Linked DNA regions of Homo sapiens: regions 2, 3, 4 and 5 are each linked to region 1. The links come from fine-mapping of genetic effects on gene expression. A gene starts in region 1. Each other region holds a variant in brackets. All regions are shown on one strand. Distances are between the middles of the regions.

Region 1 (5,106 bases):
TACCCCAAGTTAGGAACAAGACCACAAAGTCAGATGGCACCTTAGAGAAATTGGCACCACCACTTTGCTACTCATCTATTCAGAGATGATTCAAAGTATGAGCAAATATTATGCTTCCCTGCATTTATTCTGATGAAAAAAAAAATCACGTATGCTAATTTATATGTAAATTCAGTATGGCCCTGGGGCTCCTGGCATGCAGCCAGCAGGGCTGTTGATGGTGGAAGTTTGGTCATTGTCTCCAGTTTGATGTTACAGGCAGAAGAGACATGGATCTCGGGACAGATAGAAATGACTGAGGGCTTGGGACCTTCCCTCTCCCTACCTCTGACCCCTCACCCTACCCCTTGCCTGCTTAGTTTTCATTTTTGCTGTCAACCCCCACAGAAACTGCTTTTCCGAAACTGCCCGATCCTGAACTCAGCTTCCCCACTTCATTCTTGTGCACCCAGAACAAGCAGGGGTGCACACACACGCACGCACACACACACACACTGATACTGCTTCATATTATATAAGAGGAGTCAATCGAGGATGCCTCCAAGTTGATTCCCTTCACTCAAACACCCACCAAAGCCCCTAGGGGACAGCAGGGAATCCTGAGGCCCATGCCTCCTGGGGTTGGGTGCAGCAGACGACATCATGGACATCCCTGCAAGATTCACCACCTTGGACTTCCTTATCACCCGACACAGATCCCTCCTGTCCCCACCCCTTGCCTTCTTCATCGAGCCCCAGTCAAGGGTGTACACATTTGATCCTTCCAGCCTGGTCTCTCTGCCCACCTTACGTGGATCCACACTGCAGCCACTGCAACCTATGTCAAGAGGACAGCAGCAATCCCTAAATCCTAACCTCGGAGAAGAGCCAGCAGGACTACAGCTCAGGACTCAGTCCAGATCAGGAGAACTCCATATTGCAGGGGGAGAAGAGGGCGAGGGGGTGGGACTCCCCATCGTTTTTCACCGGGTCAGAGGGAACTTTCCTCTGGGAATACAACTGCATAGGACTGAGCCTCACCTCCCAAGAGAGGGCTCCTCCTCCCGGAGCCCTGCTGGGCCACCCTGGGAAAGTTTCTCAGCTTGTCTCGATCCTTACGAGTTTTAGCTGTGTTTAATATAAAAGAGGCAAACTAGTTACCCCAAAGGACAGGGCAGGTGGGAGCAAGAAGATTAGTGGATAATTCTGTTGCTGGAACGAACAGACGTGAGAGCCGGGATGGGGTGTGGGGAGGCACGGTGCAGCAAATGGACTCAAGGTGGAGGCCGATTCCAAATGCACAGAACACAGCACTGGGGACATCAAAGCTTGCACTCAACTGCAGCCCCCAGGGCTCCCGGCTCAGCCGATAAATAAACAGAAAATTAGCATTCGACTCTTATTGCCTCTCTCCCTTCAACTTCGAAAAGCTTTTTAGAATTTCAGAGCCCCGGCTCCCCTCGCTTCCACACCTCCGACCCCAGCCACAAACACACCCCCGAACACATTTAAAACTAATACAGTTGTCCCCCACTGCTGCAAATTGACTCATCCCTTGCAGCTGGATCGCTGACCAGAACCTCACAGGAAGCACCTGATTCTTTCTAGCCTGCATTTTCCCCTTTGCTCCTTTTAAAAGCTTTGCAAGTTCGCTGGCCGATATTTAAAGTTTCCTCTTGTAATTTCTTCCCAGTCGCATAAGCAACACATTAGCAACCCTGTTGCCCTCCGAATCTGTCATTTCCCCCTGCTTACATGTGTGCTCCGTTGTGTATGTGTGCAAGAATGTGCATGAAGCCAGGGAGCCTTGCACACAAGCACAGTCCTAACAGGAGCACCAAACACATTTTACTTATGCACATACATATTCCCCCATTCCGGTAGCAGCCAGAATCAAATCAATATTCTCACAGCCTAGTCGGGAGAATGAAGTCCCAGCCATGCTGTCTAAACGCTCTCTCCTCCACCTGCAAACAGCGCAGCACAGCCGACTCGGGGAGTCTGCAAATCTTATAAAGCACACTGTACAATTCCTGGGTCTACCGAAGGCAAATCAATAGCAAGCTCTTACCTTGGAAGAGACACAGAGCAGCCAGCCCCGTGAAGATTGCCCAAGAGATAGAATTGTGCATTTTTGGCTGGATGGTTTTCATGATTTTTTTTCTTCTTCTTTTTCTTCTTTTTTGTCAGGTTCGGTTTTTTTCTTTCTTTCTTTCCTGATAGATTGTGTTGCTCTCAAGCTTGTGCAAGGAGATTTAAATCCACTGTTTTGCTGAAGGACACAACAAGAAAGCCGAGGGTGTGAGAGAGTATGACTTCTCCGTAATTATCTCCACTCATACTCTGGCACTGAGACACATTGTACAATCTGGCCCTGGACAGCCCTCCTACAAGCTGCAATCATTGGTTCTAATCCAAGGATTGACAGAGCTACAACACACGCGCGCGGGCACACACACACACACACACGCACACACACTCTCAGGAATCATTTACTGGGCAAATCAGGCTAGCTGATTAAAGAGACAGGAGCCTGGAGAGATAGAATGATAAATGCCACTTTGCCCCTTCTATATTACTTTCATTTTTTAAACTGACAGTCTCTGAGTCTTCTGAGTATCAGAAAATCCCTTTCCCCCTGGCATTCCCTGGCCTCCTGAACTCAGATTCCCTTTGCACTGGAAAAATCCCATAGCCAGCCATGGCTTATGGGAAATTTTAAAGGGACATTTTCATGCTCAGTGAAACTTGTAAAGATGAGGCAATTTTCATTTGTTGGTACCTATTTTCCCCTCCAATGGAAATATCATTCAGTGACAGCTTTTTTTTCTCTCTTTCATCAACCTTTCTACTTAGTTGCTTTGAAAATAGTAAATAACTTTCTATTTTCTCCTCCTGTCACTTCTGTTTCAGAACATCTATGTTACTCCTCTTTTTCATTCACTTTTTAGAAGTCAATTTCCTAAATTCATCCATGTGTATATGATACAATGGAAAGGTACAAAGTACCTGGTATTTGAGAAGAAGCTCTATAGTCTGAAGATGGAGAACCTTCTTCAAAAGAAAACAAAGCAGGAGTTTATTCCCCATGACTTGGTCAATCCACATCCACTAAAGCAATCATAGAAGCATCTGTGATTTAAACTGCAGCGAGAAAGATTCAGGGTAGACATGCGGAGGGGCTTTCTGAGTGTAAACTTTGTGTAGTTCCTCAGACAGTTGAAGACATTAACCTCCTTGGTGATAGGAAAGAATAAAAACCGAACAGAAATAATCTAATGGACATAAATGATTTCTTAAGAGGTCTAATTCTAGGGCCTGGAAGTTTATTCTAATCTTTGGCTTCCCCTTATGAGAAGCAAGTTAGAGGATGTGAACAAAAAATCTAGAAAATGTAGCTCCTGGCTGGGCACTGTGGCTCACGCCTGTAATCCCACAACTTTGGGAGGCCAAGGAAGGCCAGTAGCCTGAGCTCAGGAATTCGAGACCAGCCTGGGCAACATGGTGAAACCCTATCTCTACTAAAAAATTCCTTAAAAATATCTGGGTTTGGTGGTGCGCACCCGTGGTTCCAGCCACTTGGGTGGCTGAGGCAGGAGAATTGCTTGAGCCTGGGAGGCGGAGATCACAGTAAGCCAAGATGGCGCCACTACAATCCAGTCTGGGTGACAGAGCCAGCCCCTGTCTCAAGAAAAAAAAAAAAAAAAAAGAAAAGAAAAAGAAAATGTAGTTTCTCACAGAACCTTCCTTAGCTAATTCTGACACATTCATACCCCTACTATGCCTTGACACACATTTTAAAAATATTCTTCTAGAACTCCACCGCTAATTATTATACTTCCTTGTAACCCCATAAAAATGTTCATGTATTTTCAAACTGCATAGAAGAAAAGTACTCATTGTCTGTTTGTATTTTAGTGTACAGAGGTGAAATGAAAACATCACTGCCATTTTGCACATGTCTAAGACGTACGATTTACCTTGGCTTTTTTCTTTTTTCTTTCTTTTTTGTTTTTGTTTTTGACAGACTCTTGCCCCGTCACCCAGGTTGGAGTGCAGTGGTGCAATCACAGCTCACCGCAACTTTGAACTCCTGGGCTCAAGGAACCCTCCTGCCTTACCCACTATGCCCAGCTATTTTTTTTTTTTTTTTAATTTTCTACAACATAGTAGAGATGAAGTCTCACTATGTTGCTCAGGCTGGTTTCAAACTCCTTGCCTCAAGCAGTCCTTCCAGCCTTGGCCTCCCACAAGTTTACCTTGTGTTGTGTATGAATAGGGACAACACTGCCTGGAATGTGGGATCTTGTGACCTTGAGAGGAAGGGGCCCTGGGACCTCAAGATCTGGGGACCTCAAGATCCTTCTCATAGTTCTGCACAACTAAGGGACCTCAGGCAGGTCCTTTCACCTCTGTGAACCTTGGCTTCTTGTCTATAAAATTGTAGAACTGGAATAATTTATTATACTCCTTCTCATTTTAAAGATGTTTTATGTTAACTGGTATTTTTTTTCTTCTTGCCATTAAGTTCTAATTCACATATCTATCAAAATGTCCTTGATATCGTGAGCTCCCAATGGACAAGAATTTTATCTGTAGATGAGTCTTTTTGTGCGGTGCTCAGCATAGTGACATGTGTAATTAAATGCTTTGGAACAACTGTGACGGCAGGTGATAACAGTGCAGTGCAGAAGGAAGGTGGCTTCCTTTCACCACCATTTCATTTCTCTCCAGAACGATGATAAAGATCATGGGCCACTGGTAAGTCTTTAGTCCCAATCAGGAGAGGTGGACAATAACATTTGTAAATGTCCTTACCCTGAACTGTAATAAATCTATACAGTTACCAATGTTTATTAAGCTCCCAGGTGTGTACAGATAATAAGAAATTAATCATCGGAGTTGATATTTATTGATATTTATTTGCAATGTGCTAGACATGATACTCAGTGTTTTGCATGCATTTTTCTCATTAAATAATCACAACCTATGAAGTGGTGATATTATCATCCCCATTTTATAAATGAGGGCATTGAGGCTCAGAAAAAGCTTGTCCACAGCCACACAACAGTTAAGGAATGGAATCAGGATTTAAACCTGAGCATTTTCATCTTAGATCAACTTCAA
Region 2 (5,106 bases), 35 kb after region 1:
CTGCACTTCTTGCTGCTGCCATGTGAAGAAGGATGCATTTGCTTCCCCTTCTGGCACAACCGTAAGTTTCCTGAGGTCTCCCTAAGCCTGCAGAACTGAGTCAATCACACCTTTTTCCTTTATAAATTACCCAGTCTTGGGTATGTCTTTATTAGCAGGGTGAGAATGGATTAACACACAATCCTATACCGTTTCTGGGTCACAATGGACTGAACACTTAATCTCTCTGGCCTATGATTTAGTCTTCGATTAAATGTGAGGTTTAGACTAGCTTAGGATTTCTCAACTTGTGTTCAACAGAACATTAGTTCTACAGTGTGTTAATGCGCATTAATGTGAAGAAAAAAGAAGAGGGTGCTGTGGTCAATTAAGTTTGGGGGATGCTGGGTTAAACAGAGTTGAAAGGTTTCTTTACTCCAAGAATTCTTGGAGGTTTTAATATGTTAATGTGACTTCTGAGTGTCCAACAGCTGACTATAAATAGGAGAAACATTTTTCTCAACTTATCTGGCCCTAGGATTTGGGGGTTTTGTATTGGTTTTGTTTTATTTTTGCTTTACTTTGTTTTGTTTTGGTTAGCATCAGTAGAGATACAGAGATACTTTGGGAAGACTAAACTAGATGGTCTTAAATATCTCTTCCAATTCTCCAAAATTATGGGATTCTATGAAAGACCATTAAGTGGCCATTATGCTATTTTATGCTTGGGGATGGGCAAGAGAGACTAGCCTCATGTTTAGTGACAGCTAGAAGTATAACACCATGTGTGTGTCTTTTTTATTCCATCTTTATGATAGTCTAGCAGGGTGAGCCCTATCATTCTAATCTTACATGGGAGGATATTGAAGTTCTAAGGGATTAAGCTAATTTCTCAATAAATGCAGCTTGGATATTGTGGATTCTCTAGTCAAACAAAGGGATGTATGGATGCAATTTTAAATAAGATGACATTTAAGCAAAACCTTGAAGGTTGTGAAGGAGATAGCTGTGCATATACTTGGGGAAGAGTGTTCTAGGCAGAAGGAATAGCCAGTGCTAAGTTAAAAGATAGGAGCCTGCCTGACCTGCTTGAGGAATAGGAAGGAGGTCAGCAGCACTGGGATTGGAAGGGGTAGAAAGTGGGGCATGTTGGGCCAGAAAGGTAATGGGGCAGCAGATATCAGGCAGCACCATGTACCAATCTTGGGAGCTCTGGCTTCGACTCTGGGGGAATGGAGATCAGAAGAGTGACATCATCTGGCTTACGACTTTAAAAAGATCACTTACTTGGTCTATTGGATTTAATACAGATTCTAGGGAGGTGTGATAGTCATTTGTACTGCCCGCAAATTATTTCTGGTTCTCCTGGAACATGAACAAGTTGTACTTTCTTTCTCCCTTAAAGTTAGGCATGGCCATAGGACTAACTTGGCCAAAGAACTGCAAACAGAAGTGGTAGGTTTCTCTTCCTGGTAGAAGGTTTAGGGGCTTGTGGGCAATTTGGCCTCTACCGTGTGATTGGTGACGAGGGCAGCTTTGTCAGTCTGGGTCCAGCGGAGGCTATGGTGAGCAGAGCTCCTCTTCCAACCAATGCCGAATGTGACAGTGAGTGAGAACTAACCCTGGTAGTTAAGTCACAGAGAAGTTGGTGTGACTTATTTCTGGAGCATAATATAGCCTATTCTTACCAATATAGGGGCAAGAGGAGAAGCATAAGATACTGCAAGAATTTAAGTGAGAGAAGATGTTGGGTGAGTCCAGGTATGTGTATTAGAAATGATAGACGTGTTTGGGTTGTGGATATATTTTGAAGGTGGAGCCAAGAGTTTCCTGCTGGATTGGTTATGAGGTGAAACAGAGGGAGAGGATTCAGCATCAACTCTATGTTTTTTGGCCTGAGCAATTAGCCAGACAGAATTGTCATCAGTTAGCATGAGGAAGACTAGGTAAATGAGAATTAGAAGTAAAAAAGGTTTGTTGTGCTTTTTACGTTTAATTTTCCACTTCATTCTTTTGAAAATGTTTTATACTTTCTGGTTATCTGCTGACATTTTTGAGTTTAGCTTTTATCTTGTTGGATATAGTATGGGAAATCATAAAAGGTTTTAAGTAGTAGAGTGACAGGATCCAATTCATGAGTCCTTTAGAAAACTAAGTGCATGAAGATAGCATCTTGTTTTGTTTTTCTTTTCTTTCTTTTTTTTTTTTTTGAGTGAACAGACTAAAGTGCCTAGAAAAGATATTAGCAGCATTTTATGTGACTCCCTTTTGGAGCCAGGGTTCAAAACAAACCATTTGGAACTCATTGATTTCAGTTTTCTCTTTATTTTTTTCCACCTTAATTGAGTCCTTTGACTCTAAAGAGCAGATTGATTCTGACTCTTCTAATTTTCTGCCTGCTTGATGATTCTCACCTATCATGTCTGCTTCCTATCTACAGACAATCGTTATTCCCCTTCTTCTGGACACACTAAAATTAGAGCATCTTGGGAGGACACCCAGTCTGATTCCAAATTCCCTTTCTTTTGGTAGTTTGCTCTGCGAGGTTCCACTCAGCTCTCTTGACAATGCCAACATCCCTGAAGCCCTTAACCAGGCAGAGGTTGCAAACTGTCACCCTCATGGCCAAATCCTTCTGCATGATTCCCAAAGTTTTGTTTGACCCACATAGTGATTTTAAAAATTGTCACTATTTAAAAATAGGAAGACTTTTTTTTGGAATTCAGAAATGTTACCCACACCAAGAACCTTCTTTCTGAGTCTCACGCAAAGGTGTGTTAGAACTGAGTAGCTTTGGGTTCTTTAAAAGGATCAGGTACTCATCGGCACTCCCTGTCCTCACCTGGATAGCTGAATTCATCCATGTTACCTGTGCTGTTCTCTGCTTTCAAGATTGCAGAGGCCTTCCATATACATTATTGTATT[T/G]AATCCTCACAACCTTGTAAAGTCAATGTTTTATACATCAGGAACCCATCCTTCTCAGAGCTGTATTAATTGCACTTTTTATTTGAGTACATGTAAGGTTACTTAAGTGTTTCTATTTGGATTCTCTAAGGGCCAGAATTAAATATTTGGCATTCTTTATTTTCTCTAAACAGAGTGCATCCTGGACTTTGCTCAGGAATATTCCTCCTTGGAGGTGTCGGGTGGTGCCATGCTGTGAGGAAAAGCATGAACTTTGGGCTCATGCTGTCTCACACATGTGTTTGCTGTGTCTCCTTGAGCATGTCATTTAATTATGCCATGTCATGATAGTCTCATCTATAAAACAAATATAGAAAAATAATCTTTAATATTTTCTCAGTGTTTTTTTCTACCTATGCAGTGTAAACTGGAAGACAGTAAGTGACAGGGAATGAGACGGAAAGAAGTCGAGGCCAGGTCTTGGAGGAGCTTGCCATGGTCACAGCAAGATAGTCTTATTCACTAAGCCAATGACTTTCAAACTTTATGTCTGGGAGCCCTCAGGCTATGTAGACTTGTTTCTCCTGCAAGGCCTCTCCTAGGGGAAAGCAGTGAGTGGCCTGAGCCCCATACCCCCAACCTCATTCTGTTGAAGGATGTGGCAAGCCACTGCACAGTTTTCAGTGGAAATGCACTCTATGGAGGATAGATGTGAGGGGACAAACCTGATGACAGGCAGGAATGTAAATGGGAAACACATGCTTAGTAAGAAGAAGAAGAAAAAGGCTTATGAATGAAAAGTGAGCCTAGAAATGATGACTAATGATTGGGTAGCCATGAGCATCATGAAGAAGAAGGATCCAGGCTGAATTCCACATTTTTTATTTCATTAATGGTTATAAGAAATTAAGGAGTGGGGATCATCTGGGAGCAAGAAATAATTTTAGAGAAATGGGAATGAACATTAGAATTATGATGTACCCATGGAACATCTAAATTAAGGTATTGATCATGATATTGGAGGAAATGTTAGACAGTCAAAACAAGCAGATTCCCCCACATCCCCGCCACTTAACTATCCAAGAGCTTGGGAGTGAGCTGGGGAATGTTGCCTTCTGTCTCTGACCCGATTTCATCATTCACTAAGTAATGCACTTGTGCATTGAGAAGATCAGAGAAATAATAGACATTCAAGTATTTAAACATCATTAGGTTGTATGTGAATGTTATGTTTTACTTACTGGCTCAGTCAGTAAAAATGAGAAGCAAAAGCAAAAACTTATGGCATTTTGAAGTTGGAAGTTCCCCAGAGGTGGGTCCACTCTACCTTGGATCTTAGGCAGGACCCACACTACGATCTGCAAGGGAATCTCTCCACAGCTGCTCAGCACTCTGGCCAGCCTACTCTAAAGGACCATGGAAAAAAATGATGCCCAACCATTGACTCTGGGGCTTTCTGTACGGTCCACACAGAACTTACCTCTTCTTAGAAGTCTTCCTTTGTCAATTAATCATTTCTTGGGCAGCTTCTTTATTATCTAAAAAAAATTACTTAATTTGTGCCTATCTGAGATTTCCTTTGCGGTATCCTTAAGAACACTAAATGAGGAGTTATAATATGTGCACACGAAAGCAGACACTTTCCAGTTATAGAAAACGAGGGGCTGTGATTTAACTTCTCCCACTGCTTCCACCCCCCCATTTCTTGATTGCTGCCACACAAGTAGCTATTAAACAGTGTGAGATATGGTAACATGCCATGTTTTATGTTTTATTTTCATCACATGCAAGTGATTTATTAAGAAAGAGCTCCCGAAGGATCCATTGGAGGTAGAGGGACAGGACAGGGAAGAGGAGAAACCAGACAAGCAGGAGACCCCAGAGGCTCGCTTTAGCCTTACCTCAGGTAAGGCATTCCTCAGAGCTGTGCCCACGGGGGAGCTGGGCTTCCCTACTCCCACACCTGGTAGTCACTCTCACATAGGTGAATGTAGGCACAAGAGCATTGTAAAATGACAAGCTCTCTCAGCAGTGCTCGCTATGCATGACGAGGTTTTAATGAAGATGTGTGGACTCAGGAGCAGTGAATACACTCGCAGCAGAAACCCAAATGCTGGTGGTGAGTTCACCTGCTGTTATCATTTCTTCCTCTTGCTCTGGGAAAATCTCCTGCTCATAAGGTTTGTGCCACAGGTTGGTCAAATGAGGATGCTAGATGAGATC
Region 3 (5,106 bases), 130 kb before region 1:
AATCGCAGGATGTCACTTTCAACATCTTGGGAATCTTGTTAAAATGCCAATTCTGATGGAAAACGCTTGGTGATGGAGACTGAGATTCAGCATTTGTAACTATTCCCAGGTAATGCTGAGGCTGCTGTTTGGGGAACCATACTTTGATGATCAAAGTCATTAAGTCTTACAAAAATTAAACACAATGAAATATATAAAGTCCTTAACACACTGAGAATAATTATTCAATAAATGATCGTTGTTAGCATTACTTGTTTGATAGTTACCATAGACCACAGATTAAAGAGCATTTTTAAATCCCTACTTTGTGCTGTGAGCTGAGCTTCACAGAGACATCATCAAATCCTCAAACCACTCCTGTGGGACAGGTAATATTACCCCTATTTCTTAGATGAGGAGAATGACTCAGAGATTCGTGACTTCCCAATGGTCAAGTAGAAGGTAGGTTTCATGACTCTGAGACCACACCTCTTTCCCCTGCAGTATACCCCACTGTGGTATAGAGCAGCACCCTCAACTCATGTCAACAGCCTCTGCCTGTTGTCCAGCCAGGTCAGATAGTGCGGAGGAGAGGGTGTGTTGATTCTGAAAAGAATCAACATATTGTGGATTCTGAGACATGACCGCCAATTGCCAAAAGAGGAGAGAAAGCTTCCTCCAGGCTGGAGCGGGGTGCAGGCAGGCATATGTGCATGCAGGAGGAGTGGAGGGGGTGGACGGCTGATGGATGCACAGTGCGGGAAATTTACAGATCAATCAATAGACAGAGATCCAGGGAGTCTGGCAGCTGACAGACATGTGAGGGCACGCTGACACCCAGATGGCCATGGAGCACGCAGGCCAGGAAGAGTTTGGAAAGGCCAGCAGTGCAGGTCGAGGTAGACAAGCCTAGAGACAAACAGAGCAGCAGCACACACAATTTTGGTAACACCATCTGTGGGTGAGAGAACCCCAGCGCTGTGTGAAATGGACTCCAAATTCTATTTGGAGCTGGAAACGGGTGGTATGGTGTGCTCAGTTATTTTAAATCCCTTCCAATTCTCTGCCAAGAAATTCGATCCGGGAAAGCCATTCCTGCCAAGCCCCAAGGGGTTTACCAGGGCTGAGCTGGGTAGCTGCGGTCCTATCTGATTTATGGCAGGTGGGGGCAGCCGAGAGCCACCAAATTTGAGGGTATCCCCATGCCAACAGAGGAGAGGTGTTTATGTTTTCTCCAGAATGTGAGCCCAAGGGGTCTGCATTTGCAAGTCAGAGTGGGAACAGGCAACCCAAACAGGCTGAATTCAGGCATGCGCTGTGCGAGACAGAGATAGGAAGGGTGAGGACAGAGGTGGCTGGTGGGGCTCAAAGGGGACTGGCAGGGGGATGTGGAGGGACAAGCCACAGTGTCCAGAAGCAGGGGCCTGGAGGAAGCTGGTGGGGCCAGGGAGCCCTGGATGAGCAGTCCTCAGAAGTGTGGGTCAGAGACAGCTGGATCAGCACCTTTTCTGGAATCCAATTCTTATAAGGCCATGTCTTTGGACTTCATGCTCTGACCCGCCTGGCCTTAAAGCACTAATGACCCTAACAAAGGTAGTCAGTGTAGGGGTTGGTGATGGCATCTGAGTTAATTCCTACCCCAGTTAACTTCACCTCTAATAGAGAAGCCAAATGGATTAAAGAAACACGCACAACCCTGCCACTTAGCTTAAGTTTAAATGTATAACCTCAGTGGGGCGTGGTGGCTCGCACCTGTAGTCCTAACACTTTAGGAGGCCAAGGAAGGAGGATCACTTGAGCCCAGGCTGAGCAACACAGTGAGACTCTCTCTACAAAAAAAAGAGAAACAATTAGCCAGGCATAGTGGAGTGTGCCTGTGGTCCCAGCTATTTGGGAGGCTGAGGTGGGAAAATTGCTTGAGTCTGGGAGGTTAAGGCTACAGTGAGCCATGACTGTGCCACTGCACTCCAGCCTGAGCAACAGAGTAAGACCTTGTCTCAAAAAAAAAAAAATTGTAACCTCAAATATGAAGTGGACTTGACACGACCCAATGATCCCAGTCCGTTTTCCTGGTGCACCTGCTCTCCTTTCCTCCACCTTCTGCTGTCTCTGACCCTCCTCGGTGAGGACCTCACTTCTTACATTACTGCAGAGCCAGAAACAATCAGATGGAAACTGCAACACTCAACCTTATCCTCCCCAGATCTACCCTGCATGTTCCTGCTCTAACCTCTCCTCTTATTTCTGCTGAGTGAAGCTGGTCTACCTGCAGACAGCCCCTTACCTGTGCACAGGATTGCATAGTCCTCCACACCTTCCCCCAGGCACAGGACATCAGCTCTCATTCCTTTGTACCCTCATCATCAACGGCTCCCCTTACTGGAGAGTTCCTGTGGGCATGCACACTCTGCACACAAATGTCTTTATTTCCTCTCATCTGGAGATAAAGAGGCAACAGCCAAGGCCTCCCTGACCCTGACTGCAGTCCCTCTCCTCTCTGACCCATAAACCTCCCTGAGAAAGTTGTCTGTTTCCTCTGTCTGTACTTCCTCATCTTCCCTTGTCTCCTGAACAGAATCCAGTGAGGATTTGATCTCCATCAGCCAGAGGGAATCACATCTCGCCATGGATATGATGACTTCTGCCCTGCCAAAGCCAAGGTTGATCTCAGGTCTCTCGTCCTCCACCCTGCACTCAGGCAACAAAAGCATTCGATCAGATGCTGTGTTACACAGCTCTGATGTGCCGGGCTGGTCCTGGGTGCCAAGGATACATCTATCTGTCAATAAACAAGGGAGGCAAAAGTCCTTGCCTTTTGGAGGCTACGTTTTAGTTACAGACGATGACTTCAACAACAAGCAAATGCCTGACATGTGTGAGCAGGC[A/G]ATGAGCGATATGCATCCACGTCAGCCTGGGGTGTGGGTCAGGATGCCAGAGACGCCGGGGAATGCAGCAGCATGGGCCCCGACTCCTCACTCTCTTGCACCCCTCGTCAACTTGCCTCTGTGATAGCACTTTCCCCCGCTCCCAGCTCCTGCCTCCCCTCAGCCTCATTTTCTGGTCTCTTCTCCCTTTTTTCCCAGATCTCCAGGTCTTGGTCAGTTTTGGCTGCTCTAACCAAATGCCATAACCTGTGTGTCTTCAACAACAGAAACTGATTTCTCCTAGTTCTGAAGGCTAGAGGTCCATGATTAAGGTGCCAACAGATTCCATGTCCAGTGAGATCCCACGTCCTGGTTCAAGCAGCAAGGACTCTCTCTCTCTCGAGGCTCCTTCATAAGGGCAGCAATCATGATGCCTTCATGAGGCCTCTCTGCCATGACCTAATCACCTCCTAAAGACCACACCTCCAAACTCCATCCTCTGGGGGGTGAGGATTTCAACATGGGAATGTTGAGGGGACACAGACATTGGGACCTCAGCAGCACGCCCTGTCTCCACACTCTCTCTGTGAGCACTCATCTAGTTGGGCACTTTAATACCATCTACAGGCTGATGTTTCCAGCCTCACCATTCCCTTGAACTCCAAACTCATAGACCCAGTCACCTCTGTGACATCTCTGTTGGAAGTCTAACAGATGTCTCAAACTTAACACTTTCATACCAGAACTGTTGATTCCAGGCTCATCCATTGATCACATGTGCACACACACACACACACTCACACACACATACATACCTTCTCTTCCTCTGGTATTCTCCATCTTAATAAATGGTGTCACCATCCAACCAGTTGCTCAGGCCAAAACCCTTGCAATCGCCAGTGATTTTGCTTTCTCTAACTCCCTCCATATCCAACTCTGCAACAAATGCTGTTGTAACTGGACCTTTACAGCACACTCAAGATCTACCCAATTTTGCATTGCTTTCACTGCAACAGCCCCCTTTGCCATCGTTTCTTACTTGGACTAGCAGAAATATTGTCATTGGTCTCTCTAAAAAGCAGCCAGCCTGACCTTTTGAACATATAAATCAGATCACAGCTTCCCTCTCCTGAAGACCCTCCAGTAGCTCCCAGTATGCTCAGAATAGAGCCTGAGGTCTCTAAGCATCATCTCCTGCATGTTCCTCCTCACACCCAGGCTCCAGCCCAGGAGCAATTCTCAAACATGTCCTCAACCCCTTCTCCTGGCTGGAACATTCTCCCCTGGCTCTTTACACAGACAGCTCCTTTTCATCTGCCCCAAACTCACCTCCTCAGAGGGGCCTTCATTGGCCACCCTACCAACAGCTATCGCCTCCTCTGCCAAAGCCCCCAGGCTGCCCCTCCTGCCTTTACATTCTTCACAACACTCACCACTCTTTGACAGACAGGATTTGCTTCCTGCCTTTATTCACCCTTAAGCTGTCTGTTACCCTCCCCAGAATGCAAACCCCTTGAAGGCAGAGATTTTGCTGCCCTCTGGTTGGATTGTGGTTACGTATCTAGGCAGGTCCGGAAGTCAGACCATCTGAATTTGGATTGTGGTTATGTAACTAGGCAGGTCTGGAAGTCAGACCATCTGAATTTGACTTCTAGCTCCACCACTTAATAACTATAGGGTCACATTTTCTTAATCCAGGATTAAGAAAATGTGGCACATATACACCATAGAATACTATGCAGCCATAAAAAATGATGAGTTCATGTCCTTTGTAGAGACATGGATGAAGCTGGAAACCATCATTCTCAGCAAGCTATCACAAGGACAAAAAACCAAACACCGCATGTTCTCACTCACTCATAGGTGGGAATTGAACAATGAGAACACTTGGACACAGGAAGGGGAACATCATACACCGAGGCCTGTTGTGGGGTGGGGGGAGGGGGGAGGGATAGCATTAGGAGATATAGCTAATGTAAATGATGAGTTAATGGGTGCAGCACACCAGCATGGTGCATGTATCCATATGTAACAAACCTGCACGTTGTGCCCATGTACCCTAGAACTTAAAGTATAATACAAAAAAAAAAAAAAAAAATATATATATATATATATATATATATATATATATATAATAAATAACTATAGGGTCTGAAGCAAATGACTTCACCTTTCTATGCCTCAGTTATCTCATCTGTAAAATGAAGGTAATAGTCAGCATACTTACTTACCTAGCAGGACTGTTGTGAGACTTAAAGGAGAT
Region 4 (5,106 bases), 73 kb after region 1:
GGGTAGCAGAGGCCTGACACCTTAGATACCTACAGCAATTACGGGCTGTGTGGTTTCCTGCTTAGGGAGTCTATTCTTTGTCTAATGTCTGTATGCAAATCTCATTATTTGCTTTAATGTGATTCCCTGAGTGGTGTGCAGTAAGAACGAGGCATAGATAAGGCTGGGCTTCTCTGCAGAACTGTGGGTGAAAAGGAGGGTTGTCGGTTACTTCCATGGATCCCTGCCAAGGCCAGACCTGCACAGAGGTGGGAAAGATTTACCAACATGGTGTGATGCATGCAGGTGAGAGCTTGAGTATCACCCATTCGCCTACCTCTTCCTTCCACCCAGGATGCCCTCCACCCACCCTTCCAGACAGAAGCAAATCAGCTACTTAGTTGGGGTAACAAAATACCTAACTATACACAACACTTTTACATATATCAAGTGTTCAGGGGCCAGAGCAAATCCCTGGGGCCATAAGCACTAGAACAAGTAAAACTGGAGACTGGGAGTGCGAAAATCAGAAAAGAACATGGAAGGCCATGTGCTGGGGAGGTGGGGTAGGGCAGAGCTGCAAGTGGCCTTGGACCATAGGTCTCAGTGCACAGCCCCCGAACCAGCAGCAGCAGCACCACCTGGGAACTTGTGAGAAGCCCCCGACCTTGGGCCCCATTACAGACGTCCTGAATCAGAGAGTCTGGAGTGCGATGCATGGTCTGTGCTTTAAGAGGCCTTCCAGATTATTCTGGTCCACTACCCTAAGCATAAAGGAGTCATATGACAGCATCAGGTAAGAAAAAGGAAAAACAAGGATGTTGAAAGGACAAATGTGAACATGGAAAACACAAAATGTGCCTCGGACTGGTCCTATGAACACCAAAATGAGGACAAGTGATGTTCCGGGCTGCCTCACCGAGAGAAGAGGTTGGTTCTGGCAGAAGAAGGAAAATGCCATCCAGTGATTAGTGCCAGGCCCTAGAGCAGCAGTGCATAGGCCCCGAGACTGGTATTGCCTTGTACCAGTTATGCATGATGGGGGAAATTATGCCCTCTGCCTATGATTTATCATCTACAACAGGGAATGATGATAATAATAATACTTCCTTGAGAAGGTTCTTTAAAAAATTACAAGACTTAACACATGGAAAGAAGCCTTTAAACAGTGTCAGGCACAGAGTAAGTGCTGAATAAATGACAGCTATGGGTATCATTTCACACAGCTGCATAGAACCACATAAAAGACAAGGGAGTAGCAAACAGAATCGATTAGCTGACCAAAATATAGTCAGATGAGTATGTACATTAGGTTATATTAGCGAAGCAGAAGAGAGTTCATAATGCCCAAAATGAATCAAAGAAGCAAATGCACCAAGAAATAGATTGTTATTGAATCACAGGTTCATTTATTTATTCACTCATTCAGCAAACATTGAGTAACACTCCAGGGGTGCACTGTGCACCTTGGGCAGTGCAGAGATGCTGAGAAGCAGGAGTCTAGTGAGACCCTAGGGTCATAAAGACATCAAGAAATGACACTAAGCAGAGAGGTAGCTTCAGGTTAGGCCCAGAGATTGATGGGGATACCAGGAGGGGCATCTGAGGCAAACCGGGTGGCTTGGCTTCCTGGAGGAGGTGCCAGGGGGGCACAGCAGGTACACAGGGCAACATGAACAAAAGATACCGAACTGAGAAATGGTAGCATGAAAGCAAAACAGACTGGGCTGTGGCCAGATGGTCACAAGGGAGCTGGAGCTGCAGAAGCGTTGTGGCGGGTCTTACGGGCCAAATTCACGAGCTTGAACATTATCCTCCAAATGGCGGGGAGGAATTAGGAGATTTAAGAAGAAGAGTGATGCGTTCATGCTTCAGCTCTCTTTCTCTGAGCCATGAGGAGGCTGGGTTTGAAAAGAGTGAGGCCAGGAGGAGGGAAATCAGCTAGAAGCTCTAGTTCAGGGCTCACCGTCTCTCGCTGGGGTTCCATTGCCTTCTGTCTTACACAGAAAGTGGCATTTCATCTGGGACTCGAAGGATGTGAATGGATCGGCCTCAAGGTGGCCAGAACAAAGGGCAACTGGGAGAGGGGCTGGCAGGCTGAGTTTCTAGGACAGGAATGTGCTCAGGAACATAAAGAAGTGAAGTGTGGTCCTGGGGAGAAGGTTGGAGCATGAGGAGGAGAGGCAGCCTGGGCGAATGCTGGTAAGGAGCCTGGATTTTATTCCAAGCATAATGCAAAGCCAAAAGAGGGCTGCAAGAGATAAAAGGTACGAAGCTAGTGCAGTTCCTCAAAAATGTGCTGGCTGGACTCTGGTTATTGGAGGCAGGGTGAGAAAGAACAGAAATAGGGACGCCGACTGGGAGGATGTTGCAGGAGCCCAGGTCATGGTGGAGGTGACTGTGGCCAGGCTGGTAACAGCTCTGATTCTGGGTAGGGCTGGGAAACGTGGGTGGTAGTTTAGAGACGTATATCTAATCCCACAATGCTGTGAGGTAAGTATTAGAAATCCCGTTTGCCAGATGAGAAAACTGAGGTCCAAAGAATTTCAGAAACTTATTCCTACTCTCAAAGCTTCCAAACCAGCTTCCCTCCAGATAACAATTCCCACAATATCTTCCCTACAGCCCTGAAAGGAGCATTTGTTTGGTAGGAGGGGCTGGACAGAGATGACCAAGGAAATAGGGGTAAATGTCTGTGTAAAAAGAGCCAAAAATAATCTAAACCTCCTTCTTAACCATCCGTACCTAACACATTGATCTTCTCTCTGCAAATGTATTTCCTGTATTCTTCCCTTTCTGACTTAAGCTTTATTGTTTATTACCGAAGTCTTTGAAATACCTTGAAGAGCAGAGAAAAAAGCTTCTCCCCTC[A/G]GGCTGTCAGAGGGGGAGCCCAAAGCAACGCACAGCAGAAAGAAAGTTTTGGGAAGTTACCTGTTTTATCTGAAAGATTTATATGAATGTTGTACTCTGCTCACAATGCAACTCTGCTTATTTCAATGTTTAAAACTATGTTTTAAATTGCAGCCAGGTATCACAGGATTAAACAGAAGGTTTACCTTCCCGAATCATGCATGGTAATATAATGAGTACTTTGTATTGCCGCTTACTGTGTACCAGGCACTAGTCTGAGTGTGTCAGATGCATTGCTTCACTGTGAACGTGGGTCTCGTTATGTCATTTGCAGTTGAGGAATTGAGGGCTCAGAAAAGGAAGTGACTTGCCTGAGGACACTGCCTGTGCAGACTCAGGACTCGAATCCAGTTATGTCTGTCCCAGCACCTGTGCATGTGGCCATATTCCTCAGGTATGGTAGCCCAGGGTATTACAGAAAGCTTGGCTCTAAATGTATCTGAAAGTTCATGCACGAAGATATGATTTCTCATGGTTCAGGTGGATTAGCTACAGAGCAAGCTCAGGCTTTTAGTTTTGGGGGCTCTGTAGAAAGAGGACGACAAAGGCTGACAGGAAGAAGTTCATGTGATTCTGGTAGCTGGCAGCTCAGCTGTCCTGTCCGTGTGCCCAACATAGGCACTGGTGGCACGTGCTCAGGATGACAATAGCAACTGGGCTTTCTGGGCACAGGGATCATCCACTCACAATGGGACCTAGCTCAGGGCTAAAGAATGAAGCCCGTTTCAGCCCTTGCTGGAGGAGGTTGGTAAGAAAGAGTAGGTGCAAAGCCCAGATAAACAGATCCTGGTTCTAAAATGAACACTAGCTCTGAATGTAAAAACCAGGAAATCCACCCTCCAGATTGAACACCGTGTAGGAATTGTTGGGAAGAGGGAGAGGAGGCTGAAATTTGGTGGGTATCTGGAGTTGCTGGTCTATCCCAAGCTCATCATTGCAGTTTCTTCTCCACCACCCAATGGGCCTGAGCTTGCCATTCCACTGCTGTTTCTAGCCAAGAGGTAGGGAGGGAGGAATACACTCAGATTAGGAAGCGTGAGTGGCTATAGCTAAGGGATGCTAAGAAAGACAATGATTGACATTACATAATAACTCTACTGTTTTAGGCCGGGCCCGGTAGCTCACACCTGTAATCCCAGCACTTTGGGAGGCTGAGGCGGGCGGATCACCTGAAGTCAGGAGTTCAAGACCAGCCTGGCCAACATGGCGAAACCCTGTTTCTACTAAAAATACAAAAATTAGCCGGCATGGTGGTGGGTGCCTGTAATCCCAGCACTTTGGGAGGCTGAGGCAGGCAGATCACCTGAGGTCAGGAGTTCAAGGCCAGCCTGGCCGACATGGTGAAACCCTGTTTCTACTAAACATACAAAAATTAGCCGGCATGGTGGCAGGCGCCTGTAATCCCAGCTACTCGGAAGGCTGAGGCAGGAGAATCGCTTGAACCCGGGAGGCAGAGGTTGCAGTGAGCCGGGATCGCACCATTGCACTCTGCACTCCGCACTCCAGCCTGGGTGACAGAGTGAGACTCTGTCTCAAAATAACAATAATAATAATAAAATCTCTCCCGTTTTATAGCAGAGGAGGGGTATGTGCAGCCTCTTTTTTAACCCATCCAGGGTTAAAACCCCTGTTCCATGGACCAGCCCTCCTGCAATTCTACCTTAAATTACAGTGTGCTCCTGTTGTAATTCAATGACTGTTTATATTTCTAATGAAGAAAACCAGCTTCAGACAAGTCTTCAAACAACAGCCTTCACATGTAAAACATTGTTTTAAGATGAAAAGAATTATGCCAAAAATCCTAAGGCAATTGGCAACCTTCTTCCTTTTCTCCCAGAATTCTAAAACATCTTCATGCAGGTATAATAGGGACTGACACAGGATAGAGGGGCCCATATCTGAGGGTCTCCCTTCTCCTGACAGGCCTCTTGACATTTTGTCATGTCTTATTCCCTGCTGTCCTCCAAGCCAGTTGAAAACAAAGCTAGGGCCATTTTCACTCAGTAAGTAACAAGGGGCCAAGATTCAGGCAAAGAGAGGAATGAGTTCATTTGCAACCTCAGGGCTGAAAACAGAGTCTCCTTGTAAATCCAAAACAAATCAAGAGACAGGAGGCAAAGACTGAGAGTAGATTGTCAATAACCATCCTGGGAAAAGATTAATCTGGAGCTTGGGGTAACTAATGTGAGTGTTGAGATAATTCAGGACATGTTCAAT
Region 5 (5,106 bases), 640 kb before region 1:
TAGACATAAACAGTCTGCTGAAGAAACTACGTAACAAATGTTTAGGGACCGCTCACCCAGTTCAAGATGAGGCACTGACTTTATTGACTCCGCTGCCATTATCTGTTTTCCATTTCTTAACAGAGATGCATGAACCCTTTCATTCCAGAACACAGTTAGCATTCAGTTAACTTCAAAGAGAGGTTGATTTGCTAAAATCCATTTATTTATACTTCAAGTTAAATGTTAGAAACAGTGCAGTAAACTGTTGTCAAGGAGTTCCCCTCTCAGTTTATTATTTTTCAAATCATAGTATCAATATCAAGTAGAATTTTCACTAGAGGTGACTTTATTCAGTTCTTCAATCACATATTTAATGGAACAAATTTTACAAATTGTAGACCTAATTGTTATAAGGGATATTAATCATATAAGAAATGGTTCCATGCTTGCTGGTGCTTATAATTAACATGTATGAAAACAACTCAATGCCACAGAGCATACATTGTGATAATGCCCATACGAGATCGACATGTAAATATCAGGTCACTTTCATTTTATGGGAGTAAGATGAAGGGTGCTTAGTGGTTATACACAGATAAGTAACTGAGACTAAGGGGAGTCTAGGAGCCCTGTCCAAGAGCTGCGAATATAACCTCAGTCACTTGGCACCAATAAATGATACTTCCATCAGGGAATTCTTAAGAGAGATAGCACACAGCTGTGCCTTCAGGAAACTGTACAATTGTGATAGGCAAAAATGCAGAGTGGAAACGCTTTACAGGGAGACAGAAAGACACCTGACCAAGTCCCCAGACTGGAGCAAGTACAAGAGGTCCTTCTGTGATAGCATCAGTTGCCGTAAAGAGTTCATATTAGAGCCTAGCAGAAGAGAATGGAGGAAAAAAAAAAAGACAGTAGAAATGGTCACTTAATAAAGAGCTTCAAATGCCAAGATAAGACAGGACTGGCCATTGGAGGGAAAATTCATTAAGGTTTGCTCAAGGAGAGGAGAGACATGACCAAATCACTCTTCTAGCACAAAGAAGTATAGCAGAGGTCCGAGCAGACTGGAGACTAGAGGCTGGGAAGGTATGAGGCAGAGGGTCTCTGGGAAGAGCAGCCAGGGACTGACCTTTAGACTGTATCTGTCATCCTATAACTTCACCAGTCTAGCCTCAGAGAAAAGAAATCCTTATCCTTGTCTTCTCCACCATCGGAGTTACCAAGGTGAGCTAAAAGCTGGGGCTATAGCTTTGTCATACATAAGTTGAGTTTGAAGAACTCAGTTCTGTGTTCAGTATGTTTTATAGGAGGGAGAAATCATTTCTGAAACACTTAGTTCCAAATAGAGAGTAAGATCAAAGCTAATATGAAGCAAGAAGCTGCTGAGGTATTACATGAACAGCCGTGGTGAGGATAAGTGTTTGGATTTTCTAAAAATTCCAAAATTATCTGTATTGATCTCTACAATCTAGTGACTTAAGAAATTGTCTGTCCATTTTCTTCACTCATGCTGTGCAGAATTGATATAACGTGTATTCGGTCAGCTCAGTGACCTTCCACGGCCATTTGAGCCACACATTCAGCAGTGAACTCAGAAAAAAAGGGTAACCTTCTCTGAGGGGCAAGTTCCTTAAACCACAAAATATGGTCTCTCTTCTCCATCCTTCTGTTCCTCTGAGAACCAGCATCATGATCACCTTCCTACAAAATTGAAAAGGCAAAACACACCGATGACGGATGTTTTTAATCACAAATGTAATAACCCATCACGTCTCATGACAAAGAAAGAGGTCAACAGGGAGGCAATTTGGTCTAGGAGTTTAATAAAAGCACGCTTTCCTTGGAAGCAGTCTTATAATGCCATCTTCCAAGTGTGGCGTGCAAAACAGAGTGCACGAAAGCAGTGCACCGGAATTAGGGCTCCAAAGACGTCCCTGGGGGCTTGTGCTCCATTCTCAGGACTGTCAGAAAGCCTCAGAGCTGCCGGGATGGCACAGCCAGGGCACTGGACCAGGCACAGTGTCAGTGCCAGAAACGACATCCCTTTCCACATCACTGTCTGCAGTAGGATTTTATTCCCTTTCTTCTGCTCACACTCTTTCTCTTAGGCTCAATCTGGCTTTACATCGGCACATACATACCCATCTGACAGGCTCTCCCATGAAATTTGCTGTTCCAATCTCAAACTGTCCCCCAGCTTAAAGACAGCCAGGTACACAATGAGGAGTAGGTCAGTAAAAGTCAGGGAAAATTAGGACACTTCCCTGGGTGGCAGGAATTAACTTACAGGACTCTTGCAGGCACAGGCGTATTTCAGGGGAGCACACTGTGTGTTTAAAAATGCTTTAGAAAAGCAGGTTTCCAATTGTAGCTTTTCCTAACAAAAGACAGGGAGACTTCTGCCAGAGGTAAAGCTTCCAGGCTGATGGCAGAGGGAGGGCTGGACCATCAGTCAGCGGGAAGCAGAGTGTGTGCAGGACACATTCCCCACAGCGCTGATCTGGTGTCTGCCTGCCTTTCTTTCAGGATGTGGATTTCTGCCTTGGTGTCCTGCTGGTGAATTCTCTCCAGTTATAAAACATTTTGTTACCTTCATTCGCTCTTAATTAAAAAGGGAAAAGAAACTCCTAGGGCTCTGACAACAGGAAAAAAAAAAAAGAAAACAAGGAAAGAAAGAAAAGGAAAAGAAAAAAGGAAAGAAAGGAAAAAAATGAAGAGCTCTTTGAGTTGCTGAAATCAAACGGTCAGATAACCTGATGTGGCAAGACAGAAAGGACAAAAAAAACAAAAACCATGGAGTCATTGAAAATGATTTTAATCTTTGTGAGCAATGTGGATTCTGTGAAACAGACATGTTTTCAGGGGGAAATGGGGAGCATTTGTAATGCCAGGGAGGAAAGGTATAAGATTCACAGACAGAGGCTCCAAACCCCTCAGCACTCACATCTGGTGTTCATTCCCCACACTTCTTAGGCTACTAGATGGTTCATTCTTTCCACAAATATCTATAAAAACCTGTCATAGACTCCACACTATACTAACG[C/T]TTTAACATTCAGAATCTTAGAAAAAAGTAAATACATAGTCAGCAATATTGATAGTTTTAATTTCCTGAGTCCTATCTGAGGTCAGCTATATTAGGCACTTGACATTCATGGTCTCTTGATCCTCACACAAGTCCTGCCAGGAGGGACAAAGACCTTAAGCATATGGATGGAAAACCAAGACTCAGAAAGATTAAAGTCAGGACAATAGAATTTTACAAATGCAAACCTTGTCCAAAGAGATGCATCCCATAAGTGGCGAGGGGTAAAGTGAGCGTTTGTTCTCTCATCTGTCTTAGACAACAGTCCACCACGTCATGATCCCCATACAGTGGAGTCAAGAGCTAACCCCAATTCCCTGCTTAGTCACACTGTGCCCCCTCTTGCCTTGCTTCATTTGGGGCCTGAACAGAGGACTAGGTGTATTTCCCCAAATTCCTTGTTACAGTATAAGGCTTATTCTAAAATCGAAGCAACGCCCACCTAACATTTTCCTTTCTACTCCTCATAGCCCTTCCCTTCTTTGACCTCCCTTATATCAACTCTAACTCCATCCAGGGTTATTCTCACCATCTACCTTTTACCTCCATTCTCAAGTTGCAGAGATTTCTAGGCAAAAAATTCATCCTCAGTTGGCCCCTCACTTTGTCCCCCAGGACAAAGGCAAGCTTTGTGTTTTAGCTGACCTGAGATGAAAATCCAGCTCTGTTGGACTCTATGTTTGATGCTCTGAATTATGATGTGCCCCAAACTCATAAAACCTGATACACAAACACAATTCACAAAGCAAATGCAAATCAGGTGGATGATTATTCCTTCACAAAAGGATTCACCATAGATTTCTTTAAATAGTAAGCTTCTCTGATGCACTTATGATATGACTTGATTTTTCCCCCAGGGATACACTCTTTGCATAAATAAAGCAAAGCAGGCTGCAACAAAAGAGAGCATCAGAAATATCTGCCTGGAAACCTCACATTTCAGGGCTGTTTACTGAGTCCATAGCTGTTGACAGGCCCCAAATCACAAGTTGCTGTGCTTCGTAACGCTCAGCAGGAGTTATGCCCTCCTGACTCTCCTAGTGACCTAGTGTCCTGCTGTGCAGCCTGGCATCAGCTGGCGGTCTTATTTGTGCTCTTAAGTGATCCTGGGATGAATGAGCACCATTCCCTTATTGCCACTTATCCAAACTACCCTGTAGAATGTTCACCTTCAAAAATAAAGGGCCACTGAATAAAAGCCTTCAATTCCTGGCTAGGTTTTGCATTAAGATCAGACTCTGTAACAGTCAGGATAAGTAGGTTATGCCGAAATCGTCAACAACATGAAAGTCTCAGTGACTATTTCTCATTCACAGTAGACATCCATCACAGGTGTGACAGGGAGGAGCTTTTTTCATCCATTCACTCAGGAACCCCCAGTGGGGCAGTCACAGTCTTGAAAGTCACTGGATGTCATGACAGAGGAAAGAGAGTGCCCAGGAGGGTCTCGCACTGGAAGTAAAATGTTTAGCCCACCCACAGGGTGACACACGTCATTTGTAGCTGCCTCTCATTGGCCAGCACTAGTCAATGTTCTTCTCCACAAAGGAGGAAGTACAATCCTACCACAGGAAGTGCTCAGGAAGTGGCACCCATGATCACCATAGGCCCACAGTGGTGCCCCAGGCTATTCTATAACCACAGAGGACAAGGGGCTTGAGATCCTGATACTGTGGAGGACAAATGCATCACAATAGTTCTGTTTGACCTGGTCTACACTCATTCTTTGGAGGAGATTCCTAGTTATATCCCTGATTACACCAGCCTCATAAGCCTCACCCCCAAAGGAAATGACTGCAGAGCTCTCCTGAATTTAGAATAGGTGCCTAGGCACACACTGCTTTGTGGACTGCCTCTTCCAGGGCTGTCTTTAAGTCTGAGAATGAGGTTTTATGTGCTTTGCTGAAGTTCCCAGTCCTGCAGAGACACCTTTGTCCTACGATGTTCTTGCAATAAAGCCTTTAATCTATTTCAAAAAGAGGCTGCCTTCTCATATTCTCTTGGCTCTTCTCATTGTTGGGTTATTATTTTCCTCTTTT

Alleles and levels. Positions count from the first base shown, and alleles are read on the strand shown. Sizes are in standard deviations (SD) of each study's normalised expression. Not every link is listed here.
For the expression in fibroblasts of the gene that starts at base 2,324 in region 1, C is the low allele of the variant in region 5 and T is the other (small effect, 0.17 SD a copy in GTEx).

Evidence for each region. PIP is the estimated chance that this variant, and not a neighbour inherited with it, causes the effect. A credible set is the group of variants that fine-mapping cannot tell apart.
Region 2: its variant is the best candidate, but not a certain one, in a credible set for the expression of NTM in lung (GTEx, PIP 0.81).
Region 3: its variant is the best candidate, but not a certain one, in a credible set for the expression of NTM in testis (GTEx, PIP 0.60).
Region 4: its variant is the best candidate, but not a certain one, in a credible set for the expression of NTM in lung (TOPMed, PIP 0.86).
Region 5: its variant is the best candidate, but not a certain one, in a credible set for the expression of NTM in fibroblasts (GTEx, PIP 0.75).

What each region holds. Positions count from the first base shown.
Region 1 is chr11:131,367,833-131,372,938 of GRCh38, reverse strand. NTM (neurotrimin) reads right to left here and starts at 2,324. Exons shown (of 9, transcript NM_001352005.2): 1 at 2,051-2,324. The coding sequence starts at 2,132.
Region 2 is chr11:131,333,325-131,338,430 of GRCh38, reverse strand. No RefSeq gene overlaps it. Among named protein-coding and RNA genes, the nearest start is that of NTM, 35 kb to the left of the region's middle. The variant T/G (reference allele first, on the strand shown) is at 2,905.
Region 3 is chr11:131,500,413-131,505,518 of GRCh38, reverse strand. The region is part of intron 1 of NTM (neurotrimin); the gene reads right to left. Among named protein-coding and RNA genes, the nearest start is that of NTM-AS2, 38 kb to the left of the region's middle. The variant A/G (reference allele first, on the strand shown) is at 2,865.
Region 4 is chr11:131,294,588-131,299,693 of GRCh38, reverse strand. All of the region lies in intron 1 of LOC124902794 (a long non-coding RNA gene), which reads right to left. Among named protein-coding and RNA genes, the nearest start is that of NTM, 73 kb to the left of the region's middle. The variant A/G (reference allele first, on the strand shown) is at 2,851.
Region 5 is chr11:132,006,404-132,011,509 of GRCh38, reverse strand. The region is part of intron 2 of NTM (neurotrimin); the gene reads right to left. Among named protein-coding and RNA genes, the nearest start is that of NTM-AS3, 110 kb to the right of the region's middle. The variant C/T (reference allele first, on the strand shown) is at 3,029.